4 linked regions of the Homo sapiens genome follow. The protein of the gene in region 4 purifies or fractionates together with the protein of the main gene of each other region. This does not show direct contact. Each region holds a gene or a part of one and is shown on either strand. Other genes may lie near its edges.

The links. Proteins that work in one complex are often made in the same cells at the same time.
Region 1: the proteins of DDX18 (region 4) and NOL10 fractionate together in Homo sapiens (co-fractionation; one large-scale study listed by BioGRID). This does not show direct contact.
Region 2: the proteins of DDX18 (region 4) and RRP15 fractionate together in Homo sapiens (co-fractionation; one large-scale study listed by BioGRID). This does not show direct contact.
Region 3: the proteins of DDX18 (region 4) and PINX1 purify together in Homo sapiens (co-immunoprecipitation; one large-scale study listed by IntAct). This does not show direct contact.

The regions. Positions count from the first base shown.
Region 1 is NC_000002.12:10,570,254-10,572,614, forward strand, and holds the end of NOL10 (nucleolar protein 10), read right to left. Parts: intron 1,938-2,361; coding exon 1,818-1,937; 3' UTR 501-1,817; downstream 1-500.
Region 2 is NC_000001.11:218,333,793-218,337,292, reverse strand, and holds part of RRP15 (RRP15-like protein), read right to left. Parts: 3' UTR 1-3,500.
Region 3 is NC_000008.11:10,819,376-10,822,875, forward strand, and holds part of PINX1 (PIN2/TERF1-interacting telomerase inhibitor 1), read right to left. Parts: intron 895-3,500; coding exon 818-894; intron 1-817. UniProt on the Homo sapiens protein: Microtubule-binding protein essential for faithful chromosome segregation. Mediates TRF1 and TERT accumulation in nucleolus and enhances TRF1 binding to telomeres. Inhibits telomerase activity. May inhibit cell proliferation and act as tumor suppressor.
Region 4 is NC_000002.12:117,816,719-117,821,190, reverse strand, and holds part of DDX18 (ATP-dependent RNA helicase DDX18), read right to left. Parts: intron 3,748-4,472; coding exon 3,463-3,747; intron 1,543-3,462; coding exon 1,399-1,542; intron 31-1,398; coding exon 1-30. UniProt on the Homo sapiens protein: ATP-dependent RNA helicase that plays a role in the regulation of R-loop homeostasis in both endogenous R-loop-prone regions and at sites of DNA damage.

The DNA.
Region 1 (2,361 bases), about 110 Mb from region 4:
GGAGGCCTGAAGAGAGAAGGAACAATGGTGAGACAGGAGGAGGAAGGGAGGGAGTAGGGGAAGGAGAGAGAGAGAAAGAGGGAAACAGAGATAGAGTGCGCATGTGCTAGCTGACTGACCGTGGAGCCATGGATCTAGGTGTTCCTGAGGCCAGTTCCATGTCCCAAGCATGGTGATGTAAATTAATGCATTCTGCCTCTCGGCTTATGCTATTCGAAATTAGGCTGTATCATTCACAGTCCAAAGAGTTACTATTTCAGTTGTATATAAAGAACCTTAAAAATCTATAAAGGCACCTCCAAAATCACATCAAAGCTGGAAAAACTAAGGAAACCAAAGTTGGTTCTCTTCTTTCTTTTTTTGAGACGCAGGTCTTGCTCTGTCGTCCAGGCTGGCCTCGACTTCTCAGGCTCAAGCAACCCACCTCAGCCTCAGTAGCTGGGACTACAAGTGCACACCACCGTTTGACTAATGAAAAAAAAATTTTCTTGGAGTCTTTCTCAAAGAAGCTATTCAAATGAAAGTATATTTATTTTTATAAATGTTTCCTCCAGTAAGTTTATGTTTGACTGTACTTAAGAAACAGGAAAAAAAAAAAACCTGTAATTAAACTTGTGCCAAGATTAACCAACAGCCTCTACTGCTTGTTTCCCATTATTACAGGTTGGGTATCCCTTATCTGAAATGCTTGGGACCAGAAGTCTTTTAGACTTTGGTTTTTTTGTGTGTTTTGGAATATCTGTATTATATTTACTAGTCAAGTATCCCAAATCTGAAAATCCAAAACCTGAAAAGCTCTAATGAGCATTTTCCTCCAATGTCATGTCAGTGCTTGATATGGTTTTGCTCTGTGTCCCCACACAAATCTCATGTCAAATTGTAATCTTCGGTGTTGGAGGAGGGGCCTGGAGGGAGGTGACTGAAACATGGGGGCAGACTTCCCCCTTGCTATTCTGTGTTAGTGAGTTCTTGGAGATCTGGTGTTTGAAAGTGTGCAGCATCTGCCCCTTTGCCCTCCTCCTCTGGCTCTAGCCACGCAGGACATACCTGCTTCCGCTTCACCTTCTGCCACGATTGTAAGCTTCCCAGGGCCTCCACAGCCATGCTTCCTGTACCACCTGTAGAACTGTGAGTCAATTAAACCTCTTTTCTTTACTTATAAATTACCCAGTTTCAGGTAGTTCTTTATAGCAGTGCAAGAACAGATAAATACAGTGCTCAAACAGTTTTAGATTTTCGGATTTGGGATGCTCTCAACCTGCACCATTAGATTATACTCTCTTGGTATAAATTATTTAAAAACAAATCCCAAACTAATACATAAACAAGCCGAACAAACCTATCAGCATAAACTTATAAACACAAACACAGGCAATACACAGACACCAGGTAAAACAGGGATGGTATTTCTGGATGGTTTAATCATGAATGGCGGTAGGCAGTGTAAGAAAAAAGTTCCTAGAGCATGATAAACCTTGGTTTCTGGCACAGGATAAACCTTTCATTTCATGGTGTACATTTCACAATATTAAAAAAACCCCAGCCTGGTTTTCATGATTAACGCCGTGGGGAAAGGACAATGTTTCCAGGGAGCAACGACTCGCAAGCACACCCCTGGGGCTGTGCGGTGGCCGTCGGCGGGGCCAGCTTCAAAGTCCAACCCACAAGGCACAGGTTTTCAAATCTTTACCTCTGTGTACAAGAACGTACATGAACTTTAAAAACGTGTGTTTCCTCGTCTGTGTTTAACACCCTAACGATGATCAGTTTGGGGGAGACGTACCCCTCCCTAATCACAGGTAGGACCACTTCCCAAATCAATGAAACGACCGTCCTCTTTTGTGTCTTGACTTCAGGTGTCCGGCCGAACGACGGAGTCTTTTCCTTTCTTGTCGATGCAGTTTCTCAGCCTCCTGTTGCTTCTTCTGCTGTTCAGACTAAAAGAGAAAATGAAATGAGTAGAGGGAAAGAGAGAAAATTCTATACCTCTTTTCTGGTAACCGTCAGGCTGCCAACAGTACCACCACCAATCTCAGAACTGCTGCCAGGAGAAATGCTGCCCACAGGCTCCAGGGGACATGGTGGGGCTGCCTGGACTCTGCTCTGACAAATGCTACCCTGGCAGAAACAGCAGGACCAAGGCCAACTTTTACCATCAATGCAAAAGCAGAAATTCTGAACCCCAGGCAAGAGAAGGGCCCTGACAGACCAGCCTCCTACAAAGTAGGAGACTGGTTTTTCAACCAACACACTCACACAACCACTGGGATGTTTTAAAAGAGCCTACACAAGAGCCACCTTAAGAAGATGATATCACTTAGAGTGTCCACTTCCTTTTAGAGATCTTTGTTTACAAACTAG
Region 2 (3,500 bases), on a different chromosome or scaffold from region 4:
TTAAATTTTTGTTGGGGGGAATTCTATCTAGAAAAGGAAGACTCAGAATTACATAGATGAGAAATGAATGGAAACCTATAGGTGCAGCACCTAATCCTCCAAATGCATAAGAGAGAACATCTCTTGACACGCTACTACATAACAGGCACTGTGCTAGATAGACACTGCATACATTAATCCAATCTTTACACCCTGAACTATATATTATTGTATCTGATTTACATGCTAGCCTTACAAAGGTTAAGAAACTTACACAAGGAAACAAAACTAGTAGGACTCAAAACTGAACTCTGAACTCAGTTGTGATTCCAAAATTATGCTGTCTCTCATCTAACAACGAACACTGGTATTTCTTAAAATGTCCAGTGTAAATATAACTTTACTGGTTATTAAGGAGTATATTTGGGAATCCTAGTAAGGACCAAGATACGGCAGTCATGTCTCATGCAATCTACCCTGGTGTTCCTGGCATTTGTAGAGAAGGATATCATCACATTGAACCTTTTGGACTTTGAGCTTTTATATTTATAATATACTTAAGAGAACCCAGTGTTGCTGTACAAAGACAAATATTATTGTGTAGAAACAGTCTTGATGTTATGCTTGGTACTTCTCAGTATTTCAGGGCAACTGCTGAGTCTGGCTGCTGCACTGTTTTCAGAGCTGATGTCAATCTATTGTTTATGTCCTGTCCATGGGAGGGATACATTTTTACCTAAGATTGAAGTCTGGTTCTGCAAATGCAAAGAGGCAACTGTCTGGTAGCCTGAGGGTGAATCAACAGCTGCAAGGCCACCCACGCATAGGGACACAGCTCTCAGCTGTCTCTCCATTTAGAGCCCCAGTTGGTCCTGACCTCTTACAAATTTGGTGTTTTCACTTTGATGTTTATGAACCGATTGCATTAAAAATGCAGGATAATGATTCAGGGTTAGAGAAACTATTATTTATACAAATGTGGTTAACACCTCATCATTTTAAATTGGCTGTGCTAATAATGCTCATTGTGCTCTTCAGGGTTTTGTGTGTGTGTGTGTGTGTGTTTTGCCTGAATCTGCAACCTACATTTGCTCTGGCAGTATGTTGAGTATATGCTAGAATAGAATGGACCTAGGCAACTCTAAGGTCCTACAACTAAATACACTTACTTAGGAAACCTCCTAAATAAGTAGGCCTCTAGATATAAGTGAAAAACATGGGAATTCACTCCTTACATGGTGGTATCTGTTGCTCCGGCAGTTCTCAAAATGTCCTTTTGGTGCATCATAAACCCATTCTTTTAGAGAACAACAAAAATATTTAAGGTTTGGTGCATTAATTCTGAAAGCCTCAGATGATAAATAATGCTAAAAAACCAAATGCTATTTGTTATTAACTAAGTGGCTTAACATTTAAGGACAATGGTTACCCTACAATACAAGTTAATTATAAAGAAACATATCTTTTTAAAAATATAAATACTGAAAAAAAAGTCAACAATAATTCAATCAATAAAATTTCACCAGTATTTGTATATGCCTAAATTATATCAATAAAAGTTTATGGAAAAAGCTTAAGACAGATTTACAATTCCCAAATTCACTGTTGTTTCATTAGACTAGATAGATGCTCTGTAGCTTTATTCTCTTCATAGTTGGGATAGACCCACTAGCCACGTGTAACTTTTAAAATTTAAAGTAATTAAGTAAAATTAAAAATTTAGTTCCTCTGTATCACAAGCCACACGTGAAATGCTCAGTAGTCACCTCTGCGAGTGGCTACCATATTGAACAGCACAGACATAAATTATTTCCATCATCAAAAAAAGTCCTATTGACAGCAATGATTTAGACTTTTAGTCCCTATAATTTTAATATAAAGTATTATGCCCACTCTTCTAACATATATCCTTGCTTGCCTTACTCAGTTGAAAACCAAAGAGTGTTTAACAGAAAGCTGAATATGTGCTCCTCCCACTGAAGGAGAGGGCAAAAAGGAGGGAGAAGAAAGGTGAGCAATGTTGGAACAGGTATTTTAAGAAAGCAAATTTAAATTTAAAAGGTTTACCGCATCTCTAGGTAAAAAGTCCTAAATACTAACTCCCTGAAATTATGTTCAGTAGACTAGGTAAAAAATATTAATATTGCTCTCTAAGCTAGAAAACACTCTAAATTTAGAGAATCTAAAATTATTTAAGAACTGTTAGAATATATCTTCCATCTATATAATTATGATTATTCATTCTAACTTAGCATTTTATTAAAACATTAATCACAATTCTAAATGTCTTGTCAACCACCTCAAACATTCTACTTCTAAATCTATTCACAGATTCCCTTGACTAATATGTTTAATCAAATTTCAGAAAAGCTCGCCCACTGAAAAAATTTACCAGGACTACCAGTGCTGCAACAGTCAGTAAGATTCAAATACCCAGCTGGCCAAAATTCAGACTCCTGTTTTCTTGGGGAAGGAGTGAGAGAGCTTTTTATAGGCACGAAGTAGTTCTCTCTCCTGTTTCCAAAATTTGCTCTCACTGCCAATTCACCTCAAATAGTCTTCATACCCATAATATCTACAGGGCTTATAGCGTCTATACCATATCAGTGACATGCAGAGTGGAGATAAATGTCAATCACATTGATCCTAATAGATGAATTTGAGGGAAGAACAGAATGAATTCTGCTTTGGTCAACTGGAAAAAATGTTTCCAAATAAAAACAAAGTTAACATTATCAATAAAGTATTGACAAATTATAATATTCACAGCTCTACATAAACTTCATCAGTCAACTTTCCTTGAAGTTAAATTCCTTCAAGTTAGCACATTAATGGAGACATAGAAGGAAATGGGAGGAAAACATAAGAGGTTTCCCAGAATTTATACGTCCCTTTCTTCACCCATCTGTTTTAAAAGGCAAAAAATATTTTATTTTAAAGAAATTGGATTGCCTTCAAATAGACCTTTGAGAACCTCCTACTGAGTGACTTTAGGCTCTAAGTACTAGTGGTAACCCTCTGAACTGTTCTATCCAAAGGGTTTCCAAGGTATATTTTGCAATCAATTGAATAATGTTTGAGCAATGCAGAATTCTAGGTAATTTGAAAATAAATTCAGTGCTCCAACTCCATTATAAAAAGTGCTAAACTACTAAGATAATTCTATTTTCAGTCCTAATCAGGTATTATCATTGGCTTTCAAATTCTGATGCTTAAAAATAACAACCAATGCTAAACTATGATAAATACTAAGAACATCAACCCCAGCCATCCAAGTATCTAGAATATTCTATATATGAAATAAGGAAATAAGATAATTATTTCTATATATGAAATAAGGAAATAATACTTCCAAATTATTGGTTCCTATTTTCCATAGTTCTTTCTAACCGAAGATAAGTAACCTACTATATTATTCTAAGTAGTTACCAAAAATAAAATCCTAGGTGTTATGTTTAAATAAATGGGGAGGCAGGAATTGCAGTTTTCTTTCCCCTCGTTAAAAAATTCAAAGACAGGTG
Region 3 (3,500 bases), on a different chromosome or scaffold from region 4:
ACAAACCAATAAAAGATCATCAGTACAACATACCAGATTAGCTGAGTAACAGTGGTCACAACCATATATTCCAGATTTTCTCAGACAATGCCAGTTCTAAATACTTTTAGCCTGTTATCTTTAGAAATCCATAATCCTAATATATCTCAAACTATATCCAGGGCTGTCTCTTACACTTCAAAACAGCACAAAAAATTCTTTGCAATATTATACAGCCCAATTTAATAATTAGAATAAATTATGGAGTTCATTCCATTGAGGGTGTAGTTTAGTCACCCCATTCTTTTCTTCTAGTTGTAAGGCAAATAATATTGTATAATAGAGGAAATACCCATCAAACCCCCTTATAGATGGTGCTGATCTAGCGCTGTCTCAAATGCTGTTAGAATGGGACAGGCTGGTTCTAGAGAATGAAGGTGACATGCTTCCTCCCACCTCCATTCCAAGTGGAGTAATGCAGTTTGAGCAGAACAGACAAAATCCCTCCCCTTCTCGGCCATGGAAGAGATATTTTCCCCTCTGATTGTATCGGCAATGGGTGTTCTTCCCCAAGTTTAATCTAGTCCTCACACCAAAACAAAAAGAACAAAAGCCAAACACCAGAAAACACTTATTCTTTTTTTTAAAGATTCCTTATAAAACATTATCTACCCACTAATATTATGAAAAGGATCATATCTAGGCTGTGCATGAAGCCTCCAAAGTGTTTTGGAAAGTTTGTCAGAAAAGTACTAGTCATAGATAGAAACAGTCCTATACACAGGTGAAAATCAGACAGTATTAAAGCGGAACACGGAAACTGTACGTGGCTTTATACCTCGGGAGTCTTCTTACTCTGTCTTTTCCCAAAAATGCAGTCAAGATCTGTTTTGCTCCGAGATGACAGATCCTTCCCTAGAAAAACAATGTGATGCTTTTCAGTAAGACTGTTCTTCCTAAAAGAAAGAGCGCAGACATGAACTATGCAGCACCTCAAAGGAAAATGGCTTTTGGGAAAGAAAGAAACAATTTTGAAACTACTGACTTTCTACCCACTTTTTCATTACAACTCTTTCATTAGTAAACAAAATTAATTAAATTTTAAAACCAAGTAAATGTTTTAGAACCAGAACTCTTGACATTCTCTTAATTGTAGAAACAACCTAGAGCATACTGACTGCAAGGAAAGCTAAATTCTACAGCTCACCCTACTCCCGCTATGCCCTCAAGATGCAATTCCTGGGTCTCTGGGTTCTTCATTTAAAAATAGATCTCATTTGCTTCAGAGACATGAGCTACTTACTTAGAAGATTACGAAATACACATGAAAAAATATCACTAGATACACAGCTCCAGACCCCACATATGCACATGAATGAGAACGTATCATATTTGACACACAGGATCTTAATAATTAACTCAACAAATAAAAATTTTAAAAGAATATATGTAAATCAAAAATACTGTAAAAGGGTGACAGGGTTTCAGATTTTTCTTCTTAAAATGTTCTTTACTGCTCTAGCTATATTGTCTCTAAATAAAAAGCTACATAGGGAGAGTAGGAAATTAAATGGCTCTATGGTTCTTATTTAAAACACTAAACTCTTTAATTTCAAACCCCCAAACCAACTAATTTAAAATTCACTTCTTTGGAATTTCCACTTCTACCCAATAATCCTCTGTGAGCAGTAGGCCAAATCTAGTCCCATTTGTCAACGGCATGGTAAATGCATTTTAAAATGTAACTACTCCATGTAAAGGCTTGAGGCTCTGGGCGAGGGAGGTTCTGGGTCAGACACAGGAATGTGAGTCTCACGCTGGAAGCCGAGTTCCACCGTCACAGACTCACTTGTCTTCTTGGTTTCCTGTAGCACACTGCCTTGGCAAAGTAATGTCATGACCCAGAAGGTTCTAGTTCACTATCACTGGGGCACTTAAATATGATATTGCTCAGTGACTCCGTGAAATTAAAAAAACAAAACACTCTTCAATTTAATGCAAAACCAGGTGCCAAAACCAGTTTCCTAGGCAGCAGTACCAGATGAAGTGGCCCAGGCGGTATGACCTGTTCCTGCCAGGAGGGCAGGCTCCTCTGGGCTCTGGCTGCTGCTCTCCTTCCTACCTGAGCTTGACACTAAGCCCTCCTGCTTTTCATTTATGATTAAATAGGACCTACACAAAAAGACCCAAAAGAAAACCTACTTAAGAATAGACGATGCACACCACAGATACGGCAGAAAATGAACCGGGAAAGTGGGGAAGAAAACTGGTTGTAGCGGGAAGAGGTGGACAAACTCATCGGAGGTGTAGAGATGTCCTCACAGCTTTGCTGCCAGCACAACCCATTTTCCAATGCAAAGCACAGTTTGTACTTCAGAAAAGGCAGCTGTACTTAATTCAAAATGTGTACTGGCCATCTATCCCTAACCTATCCTCTGGAATAGAGACACTCTAGAAAATGCAAATTAAGGTCTCTTCTATAGCAATTTGACTAAAAGGAATGCTGGAGGGATTAAGGAAGAGAGGGTACATGCGAGATCACAGTTCTAAAACATGATGTCAAAATGTGAACACACAGATTCAAAACAGATCTGAAAGTCAAAGGGAAAACTGTCAAGCTGGTAGAGACAGTAAGCTATATCAATGAAGGTGCAAATGTGTCTAAAGTTTTGATGATGGATTCTTGTATCAGAAATTTTTAGCCTTTAGCAAAGTTCACTTAAGTAAATGTAGAAACCAGGATTGTTACAGGCCTTGCTCTGGATTTGATCTGGAAAACAAGAACACAGAGAAGAAAGAAGAGTCAGAGACCAGTGGAAAGGAACATAAAAGGTGGACAAAAAGGTGAAGATGGAAGTGACCTTGAGATAGTTACTAATTAATGGTCCTGATGGAAAGCTTATAAACACCAGGAAATTATGGCCGCTTTTGAATAAATACGACAAATTTAAAAAGCATTTAAAAAGCTTATTTGTTTGAGTTCTGAATTATGGTCAAATCATACAAAATACTGTTGATAAACTTAGAGAAAACGACAATGAAGAAAACTGAATAGGAAACATCTATCTGGATTTGGTTCATCTATTAGTCTTCAATGCGTAACATTTCCAGAACCAGTAAGAAAGGCCTCCAAGAGTCAAACTGAAAGTTCCTGCAAGGATGAGCAGGTACTTTCAAGGAAGAACACTCTATTTAGGTTTGCTTTAGCTGTTTGTCTAATAATCATGATTATCAGTTTCCCAGTCTATCAGAGTAGCTACTGGGAAGGGAGGAACATTACTGCTATAGTCAGACACATTTACAATACCAAGAAATACACATGGGAGGCAACTAAAACTTTCATTGACACGAGAACTTAGGAATCAAGATGATTTGGAAACAGTTTAGCAATAACCCAACAAGCTGTATTAGAACTGAGGCTCAAAAAACCAACTCTATGGAAAAGCAGAGTTGAGCTGCCGAGAGTAAAGAAGTGAAGGGCAAGGAATATGTTTGCTAAAATAAAAAAACACTTAAGGTTT
Region 4 (4,472 bases):
GAGAAGCAAACGAAGTATCCTCAAAAGCTCCTAAACAGAAGACAATTTATCATTAGCAAATTTATCTTTTTTTTTAAAAAAGTATTGCTACAGTTGCCTAAATCTATTTTGCTTAGAAAAGCTTCCCGCAGTAAGAAAAGGCTAAACCTTAATTATTCATATGTGATAATATCAAGAAAAAGACCCTATATCTTTCAAGTTTCTCCACTGTTAACGGCTGTGTGAGTTATAGTCCAGAGACCATACTATAACAAAACAAGGGGTAGAGAGGAGGTATAACCAAGGAATTTATATAAAATAAAAATACCAAAACAAGGAAAATAATGAGAGTCCAGAGATAAATGAAATGTTTAAGAAATCTGATATAAAAGTGAAAACATTGAGCATTAATAAAAACTGAGTGTGAAGTCAATAATAAAAAAAAAACCTGTTAATCTCACTCCAACAAGACACAGAAGAGTCAGATACAGCCACAGAATGTTAGGCTGAGCCTACGTATCAAGTAATACAGTGGTGGTTCAGCAGAAGGCATCAAAATCACCTGGGGGTTCCCCATACTCCACATGCCCAGGGTGTAAACCAATCACTCTTGACCTTGGCATTGCTGACATCTGGGCTGAATAATTCTTTGCTGTGAAACACTATCCTGTGCCTTATAAGATATTATGCAGTGTTTCTGACCTCTACTCACCAGATCCCAGCAGACTGCTCCTAGCTCTGAGAACCAAAAATGTCTCCTAGGCTTAGGATGACCAATCTTCTCAGTAGGCTAGGGACAGAGGAGATTCTTGGGATTCAGAACTTTCAGTGCTAAAACTGTTAAAGTTCTGGGCAAACCAGGAAGAGTTACTCTTCTTACTCGGGGGGCGAATTTCCCTGCTCGAGAGCTACTACCAAAACGTTTGCAATTTGGATTAAGCAGGTCTAGGGTTGGGCCTCAACATTTTAACAAACCAACCAACCCAAACCAAATAAACAACTCAAGTAACTCCTAGACATATCTGGTTAGGAGCAGTGAATTCTAGCCTAAACTCAACTTTATAAAGGAACAAAGGCCAAAGGAGGTTAACCTCGTACAGGGCCAATCATTTTCCTATTACAACATAGAATGAGACTCAGAAAAGGACAAACCAAGGAATCCTAGAAGCTGCTAGTGTGCATATAAAATATTTGGTGTCAGGAATGAACAAAAGGAAAAAAACAGGGAACAAAAAGAACTAAAACACCACAAAATAGAAGATAAAGAGAAAAAGCAGCAGAAAGATATAAAAAAAGTTTCTTGTTGATAGTTACTTTTTTCAGGTAAACTGAAAGTCACAACTGAACCTTCAAACCTATAATCCTCTAAGAGAGGCACATTTTAAAGAAGTTACCTCTAGAAAACTTCCTGGACGTTACCTGTCAGTCCCAGGGGCAGACTGGGCACCTCACTCTCATCTTCATCATTATCTGGCTTCTCCACATTATTTTCTGTTTCTTTAGTAGTCTCGGCACTTTCTTCTTCAGATTTCCCTTTGTTTTCAGTTTTTGCTTTTTTCGTATCTTTGGTTTTAAAAGACAAAATCCGAAAAAATTTTTCCTTAAAATAGAATTCCAAATGAGATCAACAAACAGAAGATCTCTGATATAAAGACGTATATTTTCAAAAGCTAAGTATATGCTGTATTAATTTGTTAAGAATTCTGTTTGGTGAAAAATGAGTGGTTGTATTTAAAAACCCAGGGTACAGACAGACTTGGTGACAAAACCTTTTAGGCTTTTGTTCAACTAAACAGTATAAACATACCAATTATAAGTTTCACATACTCCACTGAGGGGAAAGGAAGCATACCTGATTAACATAATCCTTAAAAACTCATTATAAGTAGTCATTTTTCTTCCCACGCCAATCACTATCAAAGGCTCTTCATGTTACTAGAGATAGACTGTAAAGGAAGGGCAACAACCCACTTGCCTGGCTGACATACACTGGACTGTGCCTTGGCTATCAGGGATGAGGGTGGGAGGAAAGGCAGGGCTTCTTCCCACCCTCATTTCTACATTCACAACTTTCATGTGGCCCCAACTACCTTTTCAGTCCTACCTCTCACTTCTCTTTTCAATGTTCGACTCTGGGTCAAATGGATTAACCACATGCTGTGTTTATATAAAACTATATGGCAATTAGTGATGTTTGAAAAGAACTTAGACCACAACCCAGGACTCTCTGTAGCTCAGTACTGGTCTCCTCCCTGTACCTGACGGCCACCCTTCCAGGAAAGAGTCAACTTTGTAGGACCTACATGTTCAAAAGCCACAGATATCTTCAGCTGGTCTCCATGGCTTATTTTGTTTTCCCTGGAATAGTTCCTAAAATGTACCCATAAGGTGGTTGGGTGTGGTGGCTTCTGCCTGTAATCCCAGCACTTTGGGAAGCCGAGGTGGGAGGATCACTTGAGCCCAGGAGTTCAAGACCAGCTTGGACAACACAGTGAGACCCCATCTCATAATAAAACAAACAAACAAACAAACAAACAAAAAACCCATAAGGTTAAAACGCCCAGCATTGTGATTCAATGCTTGGGAGCAGAAATAATACCACTTCCTGGGGCATACTCAAAACAAGAATTGTGAAGGCAATAATTTTAGAACAGGATTACAATGACTTCTGTGTGTAGGCATCATGAAGACAGTAATGCATGTTTGGAAAAGTTCAAAGTCCCTTTCTAAATAAAACCCTTATTTCAGGTAAAATACATGAATAGGATGTTCCAACTCAGGGGCTGGCAAACTTTCCGCAAAGGGCCAGATAGTAAATAGTTTAGGCTTTGCAGGTCATATGATCTCTGTTGCCATAAACACAACCAAATAGGCATTGCTATGACCCAGTAAAACTTTATTTACAAAAACAGGTAGAAGGAGGGATAGTTTGCTGACCCCTATCTTATCCTACCTTGATATCTCTGCTTATACAAATCTCAATTATAATGTCCATTCTTTCATCCGAGCTTACTGAAATTCCATCATCTTCAAAAAACATTCCTTCCTTTTCCTCCTGCCATTCTTAGCACTTGGAAATTAATGTTCCATTTATTCAGAAGTTTCCTACTTTATATACTTTGTAACTAATATTCCTTTCAAAGGGAGGAATTTATGGAAGGAAAATGGGAAGAATCAAGCAGGAAAAAAGGTAACTTAAAAAGAAGAGAAAATTTCTAGAATTCTAAGGAGAGTCTTTTCTGAGAGAGGTTTTCTTCAAGGTTAGTGAAATTAAAAATATATTCCTCAATATTTTGAGAAAAGTTGAAATGGACTCCCCGCTTCTGCCAATAAAATGTTTCCATTAGCTACCAGGCTAATCTCTAACATACTGGTGAGTACAGGGAATTCTCATGTCATGTGCACACAATAGTAATAGAAAGAGGAACAATAACCGTCTGTGAAAAACTAAATGGCTGAAGTTCAAAGATAATAAATACCTACCAGGCTCAGCATCATTCACCATTTTTCTCTTTTTCTTCTTTTTCTTTTTTGATTCTGAATTGGAAGACTGCATTGCTGCTTCTCCATTGGTTAATACAGTGGATTTCTGGGGAGACTTTGTAACTTTTATATTTCCCACTGCTTCTTGAGACATGCCTCCATTTTGAGTTTCTGATAAGCCCACATTCATGGGCTTTTGTTTTGATTTTTTAACCTTTCTACTTCCCATTGTTTCTTCAGATACATCTCCATTTTGAGTTTCCGATAGGGTCAGATTTGAGGCCCCTGTTTAAATAAACAGAACATATACTGTGACAAAGAAGGAGAAGTTTACTTAGAAACACTGAAATCCCAAATGAGAACTTCCATGGCTTCCTGACACAAATTATTTAGATTTTCTTCTCTTTCATGTAATTAAAACAACTTATAGTTTTATGGTGTTCCCTTATAGGGAAAGTAAGTTATCTTAAAGAAAAAATACTGGAAAAGGGAAAGCTATATTGATTTCTTAACTGCAAAAGACCGTACATCTGACTTTAAGGAGTCTAGGACAGGAAAACTTCAATGAGGTCAAATATTTAAACAGATGAGGTCAGATAATGGCAGTTACAGAATAAACATAAGTATTTGATAAACATATGATTAACTGATATATTGAAAAAGACATTTACAACTCATTCACACAAGTACTATTTTTCATACCACTTCAAAACATTCAACCCCAACTCTTCTAGACTGCAGTGAGTTGAAAATTCAGTTGATAAGACCACTTATTTGCTCCAATATTTATCATATGCAAATACAGTAATGCGTGCACAATGACATTTCTGTGAATTAAGGACAACATATACAGTGGCTCCATAAGATTATAACGGAGCTAAAAAATTCCTATCACCTAGTGCCATCAGTAACTGCAATGTCGTAGTGCAACATATTACTCATGTTTGTAGTGATGCTAGTATAAACAAATCTACTGTAATGCCAGTCGTATAAAGTACAGCACACATAAT